Linked DNA regions of Homo sapiens: region 2 is reported to be linked to region 1. Evidence: microRNA targets listed by miRTarBase, many of them from high-throughput screens and not tested one by one. Region 1 holds a microRNA gene; the other region holds the end of a gene's coding sequence.

The links. The annotated mature microRNA hsa-miR-5186 reads AGAGAUUGGUAGAAAUCAGGU and lies in region 1 at 1,436-1,456, shown strand. An mRNA with a match to its seed (bases 2 to 7 or 8) in the 3' UTR can be bound and repressed. Matches are read on the target gene's strand: a 7mer-m8 pairs with bases 2 to 8, a 7mer-A1 pairs with bases 2 to 7 and ends in A, and an 8mer does both.
Region 2: the mRNA of TRIM6 is a reported target of hsa-miR-5186. Seed matches in the 3' UTR shown: 7mer-m8 at 863-869.

Annotation. Positions count from the first base shown.
Region 1 is chr3:151,563,360-151,567,359 of GRCh38, reverse strand. It overlaps MIR5186 (microRNA 5186), which reads left to right and starts at 1,365; the gene lies at 1,365-1,484. All of the region lies in intron 1 of LINC02066 (long intergenic non-protein coding RNA 2066), which reads right to left. It also overlaps a transcript of IGSF10 not described here.
Region 2 is chr11:5,610,654-5,615,193 of GRCh38, forward strand. TRIM6 (tripartite motif containing 6) reads left to right here. Exons shown (of 8, transcript NM_001003818.3): 8 at 124-2,299. The coding sequence ends at 689. The region is part of intron 7 of TRIM6-TRIM34 (TRIM6-TRIM34 readthrough); the gene reads left to right. It also overlaps a transcript of TRIM5 not described here. Among named protein-coding and RNA genes, the nearest start is that of TRIM34, 12 kb to the right of the region's middle.

The DNA of each region.
Region 1 (4,000 bases):
GAGGCAGAGTGACTAGGCTTCTCAATTTATTCATATGGATAATAAAGTGGCTCAAATAAAATGAATATTTATTATAAGGCCATAAAGCCATTTCACAAAAAATGAAGCAGAGGTGAATCTCCCAGGAATAGGAGCTGAGATCCAGGGAACCACTGAAGATAGAAGTTTCTCTCTCTTTGTCTCAACTGCATATAATCTTCCTCATCTATGATCATTGGCTACTGTCCACAGACAGGATCAAAATGCCCAGGGCCCAAGTCTACAGACCCATTTACTTCATAGGCCCACATCCATTTGACTAGAGACTCTGTGTCTCAGAAAATACATTTGCCTACAGGCTAGCCAACAGATTGACAGCCACCTGGATAGGTGTTGGTCCCTGGTCCAATCAGGGAAAAGGCTATGACATTAGACGAACTTGAACAGAGAGACTCATCTCTTCAGCAAGGGTGAGCATGGAGCTGACAGTGCTGTAGATAGGCCAGGCAGGCACCCTGAAACTACACCACCTCTGTTAGCTAAGAAATATAATTCTTCTTGACATTGAAGAAATTGCTAAAAATTGTGACAGGACTTGTGGCTGTTAACCTATTCAGAGGGAAAGATGGTAGTACCGAATGCTGCTCACTAAATATTCCCAGCTCTCTGCCCTCCGGCACATAGCACTCTATGGCTCCCAGTGGTTGGTGGAGGCCATGTAACTATTCTGGCCAATGAACTGAAAGCACAAACAATGTATGCCACTTTCCTGTTGAATGTTTATCTCTTGGCATGATTTCCTCTGAGCTCTCTTTGTCCCTGCCATGGTAGCATCCTCCTGATAGCGACTATTCTATCAGCCTGGGACCCAAAGCAGGGACAACACATGGGTTGTCAGAAGAACAAGAAGTCAACTTCCTTGTTAGCCACTGAGATTTGGAGTTTGTTATAGCATAACACAACCAATGCCAACTGGTTTAATAAATCCAAAAAGTTGTACTTATTAAGTAGAACCCAACAAATGCTATTAACTTTAATCATCCCTCAGTTCTGGGGAGAGCAGAGGAGACCTTATGCACTATCTTTTCTACTATTCATCTCAAATCTTTCCTAATCTATCATTTGTGGGGTAGGGTTTCACTTCCCTGCTTCCTAATTCATAAACTATCATGTTTATCATTATTTGGTCAGATTTCTGATTTTCTAGCTGATACCTCCCATTCTAATCCAAATTTGCTTTCTCCCCTCTGCCAGGGAGTTCTCATGACATGTAGCTAGGGCCTCACTTTGTGGCAATTTTATAAGCCTCTCATTAAACATTGGCACTGCCTCAGTTGCTTTCTGCACTGATTCTCCCAGGACTGGACCCCTGCCTACTCCCCAACTCAGCCAGCTTATGACTTGACCCTCTCACCTGATTTCTACCAACCTTTCCTCAGCTGATTTCTTTCTGGGGAGAGATTGGTAGAAATCAGGTGAGAGGGTCATGCCATAAGCTGGCTAACACTTTCATGCATTAATTAATACAGGAATCATAGCTATCATCTTAATCTATCACTCTCGTATCTATCTGATACTATGCATTAACGTTCTCAAAAGGCAAATTCCAACTAGAACAGTGTTTCTCAAATACCAATCAGTGGGCCAGAAGCAACAGAATTAGCTCAGTAACTCACTAGAACTCCAGGGTAGGTGCTTTAGTAGGTCTAAAAATATAAAGCAGAACATTTCTATGTTTGTTTGTTTTTATAACTTCCCCCAGGTGAGTCTGATGCACAAAAAAGTTTTGAACCCCTGGAACAGATCATTCTGTAGCTGCTTGAACTTCATAATTTGAACTATTTACCTCAACCTGGAGGCAGGCCTGGCTTTCTTGATCCCTTGTTTCAATTTTGACAATGTTCACCTTCTGCTCTGGCCAGGAGCTCCCAGGATGCCAGTAAACCAGACCTTACCACTCACCTCTGTATATAATGGCATCTCAAATTCCTTATTCACTTTTTGTACTTCTGGGTTACAAACATACTGGTGATTTTATATTATGATTTTTACAAATGGGTGAAATATGGTTTCTGGGCCTATAAAGTCAAGCACTAGATTCTAGATTCAAGGTCTCTCTACCAATTTGCCAAACCCCAGTGAAGTACTGCTTAAAGTTCTCAACTGGTCTTACCTCCTAACAATTGATAATTCACACAGCAATTGTCAAACCATCATATGAATTAACCAGTAAATCCCATTCTCTGCCAGTACTAGAGAGTTCTTTCAGAGTTTTTAGAGAGAAAGTATAGCATAATATAAGCCACAGATTCCAGAACCAGATTGCCTGACTGAAGTCCTAACTGCGCTGTTTATTAGCTGGTGATCTTGCACAAGTTACTTAGCTTGCCTCTGTCTCAGTTTTCTACTTCCTAGGCTTGTTACAAGAGTTAAAGGGACTGATACCTATAAGAAATCTTGTGCTTAGTATGTATTCAATGAACATTTAACCATTACCATGATTCTTACTTTTTAGTTATAGGCTATTTATTTACAACCACTTGTATATGAAACTTTCAACTGCACGCTTACCTTTGGGTACCTCTTGTAATTGATTCACCGGTAACTCACATGTCATTATGCTCTCTCATGCTAAAGCTCAGTCAGTAAGTAAATTGTTTCTTGGCCTCTAAGGACATGCATACCTCATTCAACTGCCGTAACCCAAATGCATGCAGATATCAAGCAAAGCAAACTGGTAAAAACTATGGCCAACTGGGGAACACAAACTTCATCTAAAAGGTCAGCCACTTCTCAGTCCAGCCTAATATTTCCATGCCTGAATGCAAACCCAATGCTTCCTTCTGTCTTTTCAAAAAGAAGCCAGAAATTTAGACTTTCATGGTCAATTTCCCAATTTGTAAATGTTGTCAAAGAAAAAAAGAAAGAAAGGAGGAAACAAAGAGAGGAAGGAAGGAAGGAAGGAAGGAAATAAATTCTTAAACGTCATGCTGGCCAAAACATATATGTAAGCCAATTTGATCCAAAGCTGCCAATTGGCTCCCTGTGCAATTAAAAAAAAAGTCAAATATAAAATTGAATGTGTGTACTGATGCAAAAAAGGAGTATGAAACCCGATAATATCAGCTTGGTCAAATTAAATATGCATGTAATGCCCTAAAAATATGTATTTAATACATTGTTTATTAGAACTAACATAAAGAAATTAGAAAAAATATAGCTATTTATGTTTTACTCCTAAAGCCAATGCAAGGTTTGTGGTAAAACCTGATGATGATCATCTTCTATGAAACAGAATATTCTTTTCACACTCATAACAGGAAGCGAGCAAAGATGTGTTTAGGAACATAAATGCTGGATCCAGACTGCCTGAATTTAGATCTTAGTTCTGCCTCTTGCTGGGTGAATACCCTCTGATGTCTTCATTTGGATTGCTTCCCCAACCTGTCTGTGCCTCAGTTTCCTCACCTGTGAAATGGATATAAGAACAGCACTTACCTCATAGGTAGTTCTCTGACAATTCAATGACTTAATTATTATAAAGCATTTAAAACAGTGCCTAGCATATAGTAAGCCCTATATAAATATTTGTTAAATAAATTATGGCTTTTGTTCAACCAAAATTTTACTTCCTAAATACTTATAAAATATCATAAGGCAGGCTAATATTTTTTTTAAACGCTGCAAATTCAACTACAGGAAACCAAATTCTCTCCAGTGCTTTAAACTAGAGCTAAATGTCCAAGTGAATATTACTGTTGTTGGTGACAACTCTCCAGCACTTGGATATAATTCTAACAGAAGGAAAAAATGCAAGTTGTTGTCAGGGACAATTGAGTATCTGATGGCTTGATGGCTTCTGAGGTCTCTTTTATATATCCATAAACGTGTTATTTGTCTTACTTGGCAGTGAAGCTCATGGAAAACTGAACTCTCTCCCTAGAGTCCTTAGCTTTTTATTAGATTCAGGATTTCCTGAAGCCCATTCACATACCTCAAATTAAGAAGGCCCAAGTTAGGA
Region 2 (4,540 bases), not on the chromosome of region 1:
ATGCCTCCCCCATCCCCGCCATATAGTTCCAGTTCCTCCAACCACTTCCTGTGTTTCCTCTTCTCAGCATAACGAGACCCATGTCCCCGTTCTCATCTGCTGATGTTGTACCTTTTCCTACAGTTGACGTGACCCTGAATCCACACACAGCTAATTTAAATCTTGTCCTGGCTAAAAACCGGAGACAAGTGAGGTTTGTGGGAGCTAAAGTATCTGGACCTTCCTGTCTGGAAAAGCATTATGACTGTAGTGTCCTGGGCTCCCAGCACTTCTCCTCTGGTAAGCATTACTGGGAGGTAGATGTGGCCAAGAAGACTGCCTGGATCCTGGGGGTATGCAGCAATTCACTGGGACCTACATTCTCTTTCAACCATTTTGCTCAAAATCACAGTGCTTACTCCAGGTATCAGCCTCAGAGTGGATACTGGGTGATTGGGTTACAGCATAACCATGAATATAGGGCCTATGAGGATTCTTCCCCTTCCCTGCTTCTCTCCATGACAGTGCCCCCTCGCCGTGTTGGGGTTTTCTTAGATTATGAGGCTGGTACTGTCTCCTTTTATAATGTCACAAACCATGGCTTCCCCATCTACACTTTCTCTAAATATTACTTTCCCACTACTCTTTGTCCATATTTTAATCCTTGCAACTGTGTAATTCCTATGACCCTGCGTCGTCCAAGCTCTTGAATATTCTTCTGTTCCCACCCACTTCTGATAAGTACCCTGAGGCTTATCAGCATGTGATTCTCCCTTCTGATCTTCTGTTTTTCTGTGTTCTCAATTCTTTTGTTGTTTTTTGGTTTTTGAATCTTTTTTGAGATGGAATCTCGCTCTGTCGCCCAGGCTGGAGTGCACTGGCGCAATCTCGGCTCACTGCAACCTCTGCCTCCTGGGTTCAAGCGAACCTCCTGCCTCAGCATCCCAAGTAGCTGGGATTACAGGCACCCACCACCATGCCCAACTAATTTTTGTATTTTTATAGAGATAGGGTTTCACCGTGTTGGCCAGGCTGATCTCGAACTCCTGACCGCAAGTGATCCACCCGCCTCGGTCTCCCAAAGTGCTGGGATTACAGATGTGAGCCGCCGCGCCCAGACAGTTCTTTCGTTTTAAACAGTTACTCAGTACTAGGATGCACCCAGTGGTGAGAGTAAGCATCTTTGACTGATGACAGGTCTTGAGGTGGATAGGGGGCGCTTTCAGTATTTTGCCATTAAGCATAGTATTTGATGCAGGTTTTTTTTGATTGATGCAGGGGATCAAATTTAGGAAGTTCTGATCTGTTAATTTACTACAAGTTTTTGTATAAAATGAAAACTCGTATTCTACCTATGTCTTTTCTGTAAATTATTGAGACAATTGTGTATCATTTTTGTTCTGTTAATGTGGCTTAGTACATTGATTTACTTCAATTTGTTACCACAACTTGCTGAAATACACCATTATTATTTGTTGTATGCAATACTGGATTTATTTTGATAACGTATTGTTTAGATTTTGTTCTCATCTATGTTAATGAAAGAAATTGGCCTGTATTTTTACATTCTTGTAATATCTTTGCCAGGTTCTATAAAATGCAATAATAAGCAAATAAATTACTTTGTTTTTGTATAAGTATGTATAGGATTGAGCTCTAAAACCAAACCATTATAATGATAATTTGGGTAGCTTCAAACTCAAATTGAAGAGAGTCTTCACTACAATCTTCACTACAACCTTTGGCCTTCCTCTCTACATTTAAGAGTAGCAATAGAACAATAAAAAAAAATACGTCTTTCAAATTAATTGCAGTAAAAACAAAAGAGTAGTGGGGAGAGAAAAACAATCCAATACATATTTTTCTCTCAGAATAGAAAGAAAACACAAAGAGAAAATATGAACAATATAAAGCACTTAAAGGAAGAGGATGATTTCTTCCAGCTTTTCCACACTCTCTTTATGCGCAGGAACAAACAGCTGTTGAGTGAGCTGCTATGACTTTGGTAGAGAGGTGCAATATGTTTTTTGAACCAGCTATAAAAGAAATTAAGAGGTACATGTGAGGGTAGAAACAAATATCAAGGATGAGAATGGCACTGGCTGTCCCATATGGTATCCAGGAGCCACCAATGTCTGTTGAGTACTTCATACATGCCTAGTCTGAATTGAGATGTGCTCAATGTATAAAATATATACCAGATTTCAAATACCTACTTCAAAAAATAATGTAAAATATCTCACTAATAACTTTTCCTTTGTGTATTGCAATGATAATATGTTGGCTCTATTGGATTAAATAAAGTATGTTATTCATTTTACCTGTTTCATTTTACTTTTTTAATGTGGATACTAGAAACCTTAAAATTACATATGTGGCTTACATTGTATTTCTATTGGACAACTCTGGAGTAGATCCTATAATGAAATTTCTGTCCCTAAGTGAGCCCTAGTGTAAAAGCCTATGGACTCAGGATACAGAGGAGGTTTCAAGGCACATATGTTTATCTCTACAGAACCTGCACCTTCCCAGCTGCCCTGAGGCATTTTTATGGAAGGTAATGACAGAGAAAAGAAGATCTCAACATATCTAGAAGTGTAGAAATTTGGAAGATCATAGAAAGGGCTCATGACCAGAGAATGATTCTGCAGACTCTGGCCCCTGCCGTTAGTCCTCAGTCTGTTGGGCACTTGAAGCTCCTTCATGGTTTGATGAAACACTGATTTGTTATCAAGGCTCAGCTTGGGTGTCTATGGTGAGATAAAGTAGTGCAGATTATAGTAAAAGCTCACTACTGGTTTGTTCTAAGGCACCGTTTTATAATATTTGGGAGATCATATCTGTGGAAGCCCAGAGGCTGGATGCAAACTCCTTATCCTGGTCTGCGTTTCAATTGGAAGAGATATAAAAGGAGATAGGGCCAGCTGACTGGGACCTATGGGGCTGGTGGAAGTTCAGGAAAGAGAAAGATCTGCTGGAGTAGTTATCCCCTTCCCACTTATTTTCCCATATAATAAGTAAGTTCTAGGCAAAAGAGTTAGCCCAGCTCTCTTCTGTAAACTCATTTTACAAGTAAATTTACTTTCCAAGTGAATTTACTTTATAAGTAATTTTTCTTTTTTGTCACCAGAGTTCTAGGGATGTGGTATAGTTATCCTAATATTTCCCAAAATGTGAGTGCTTGCTAGAGCCGATATTTAAGTTTGATGCTAACTTAAAAAGAAGATTTTGGAAGGGAGAGGGACTTTCTTAACAGCTTTATTGTGATATTTACTTCTTTATAAGTAAATTCACTTGGAGAACCCAAAGTATTGTCCAGTGAATGACTTTAGATAATAGTGAAAGCCAAACTAAGTACTTGCTGGAATTCTATAGGTAAGACCTGGGGAAGGTTGCTCAATCTGAGACTTGGGGACAATTATTAGGGTAAGTTCACAGCTCTGACCTTTTCTTGAGGGGTTATGGGGGCTTGACAGAGGCCTTCTGTTCTTGACATGTGATAGAGTAGGCTCAACTACTATGAAAAAGAACTCTAAAAATACATAATGGATCAAATACTAAAGAAATGTACTTCTTGTTAATGTAAAACAATCGGTCATGAGTGTATGTAACTGGTGGTGAGTGGCACTGTTCCATGTGGGATTCATGCACCAAGCTTGCTTTCATCTTGTGGCACTTGCTGTACCCCAGAATGGTAACAGCATGAAGCTGGCAGAAAGGTGAAGAAAACTTAGGGGAGAAAACGTGCTTTTTAAATCCTTAGTTCATAGATGGGATTCGTAATATCTGCTCATTTTCTATTAATGAGAATAGCCATAGGGCTAAACCTAACTGTAAAGATTTTTTAAATGTCTAGCTGTATGCAATCATGTACAATCAAATTTCAAGGAAAAGAAAACTCAGATTTTGGTGGAAACTGCCTGGAACCCTAAGTAATCCTTTTTCCCATTATAGAGGACTCAGGATCTCAGCTTTTTTCTGGAACTATGTTAATTCCATTCTATAGCCTAAAGTTTGTAAAAGAGAACTGTATTGTCACTAAAGTTCTAGACATGTGGTATAGTTATCCTAATATTTCCCAACAAGCGAGTGCTTGTTAGAGCTGGCATGTAAGTTTGATTCTAACTTAAAAATAATCTTTTTAGGGGAAGAGGACTGTCTTAACATTATTATTGTAATATAACTGACATATAATACATTTCATAAAGTATATAACTTGATACATTTTGACTTGTGAAACTCATCACCATCAAGGCAATAAATCAGATGGGGTTCTTTTTTGTATATATAGCACTTAGAGCTATACATTTCCTTCTGTGGCTTTAAATGCATCTCACAAATTTTGATATATTCTCCATTCTATTCAAGATTCTATTTTCCCTTTTGATTTCTTCTTTGACCATTGAATTATTTAAAATTATATTTTTTCCCAAATCTATGAGGATGTTCATATATCTTTTTGTTATTGGTTTATAATTTAATTTTAAATGGTCCAGATACAGACTTTATATGACTTGAATCCTTTTTAATTGTATTGAGACTTGTTTTACGGTAAAGGATA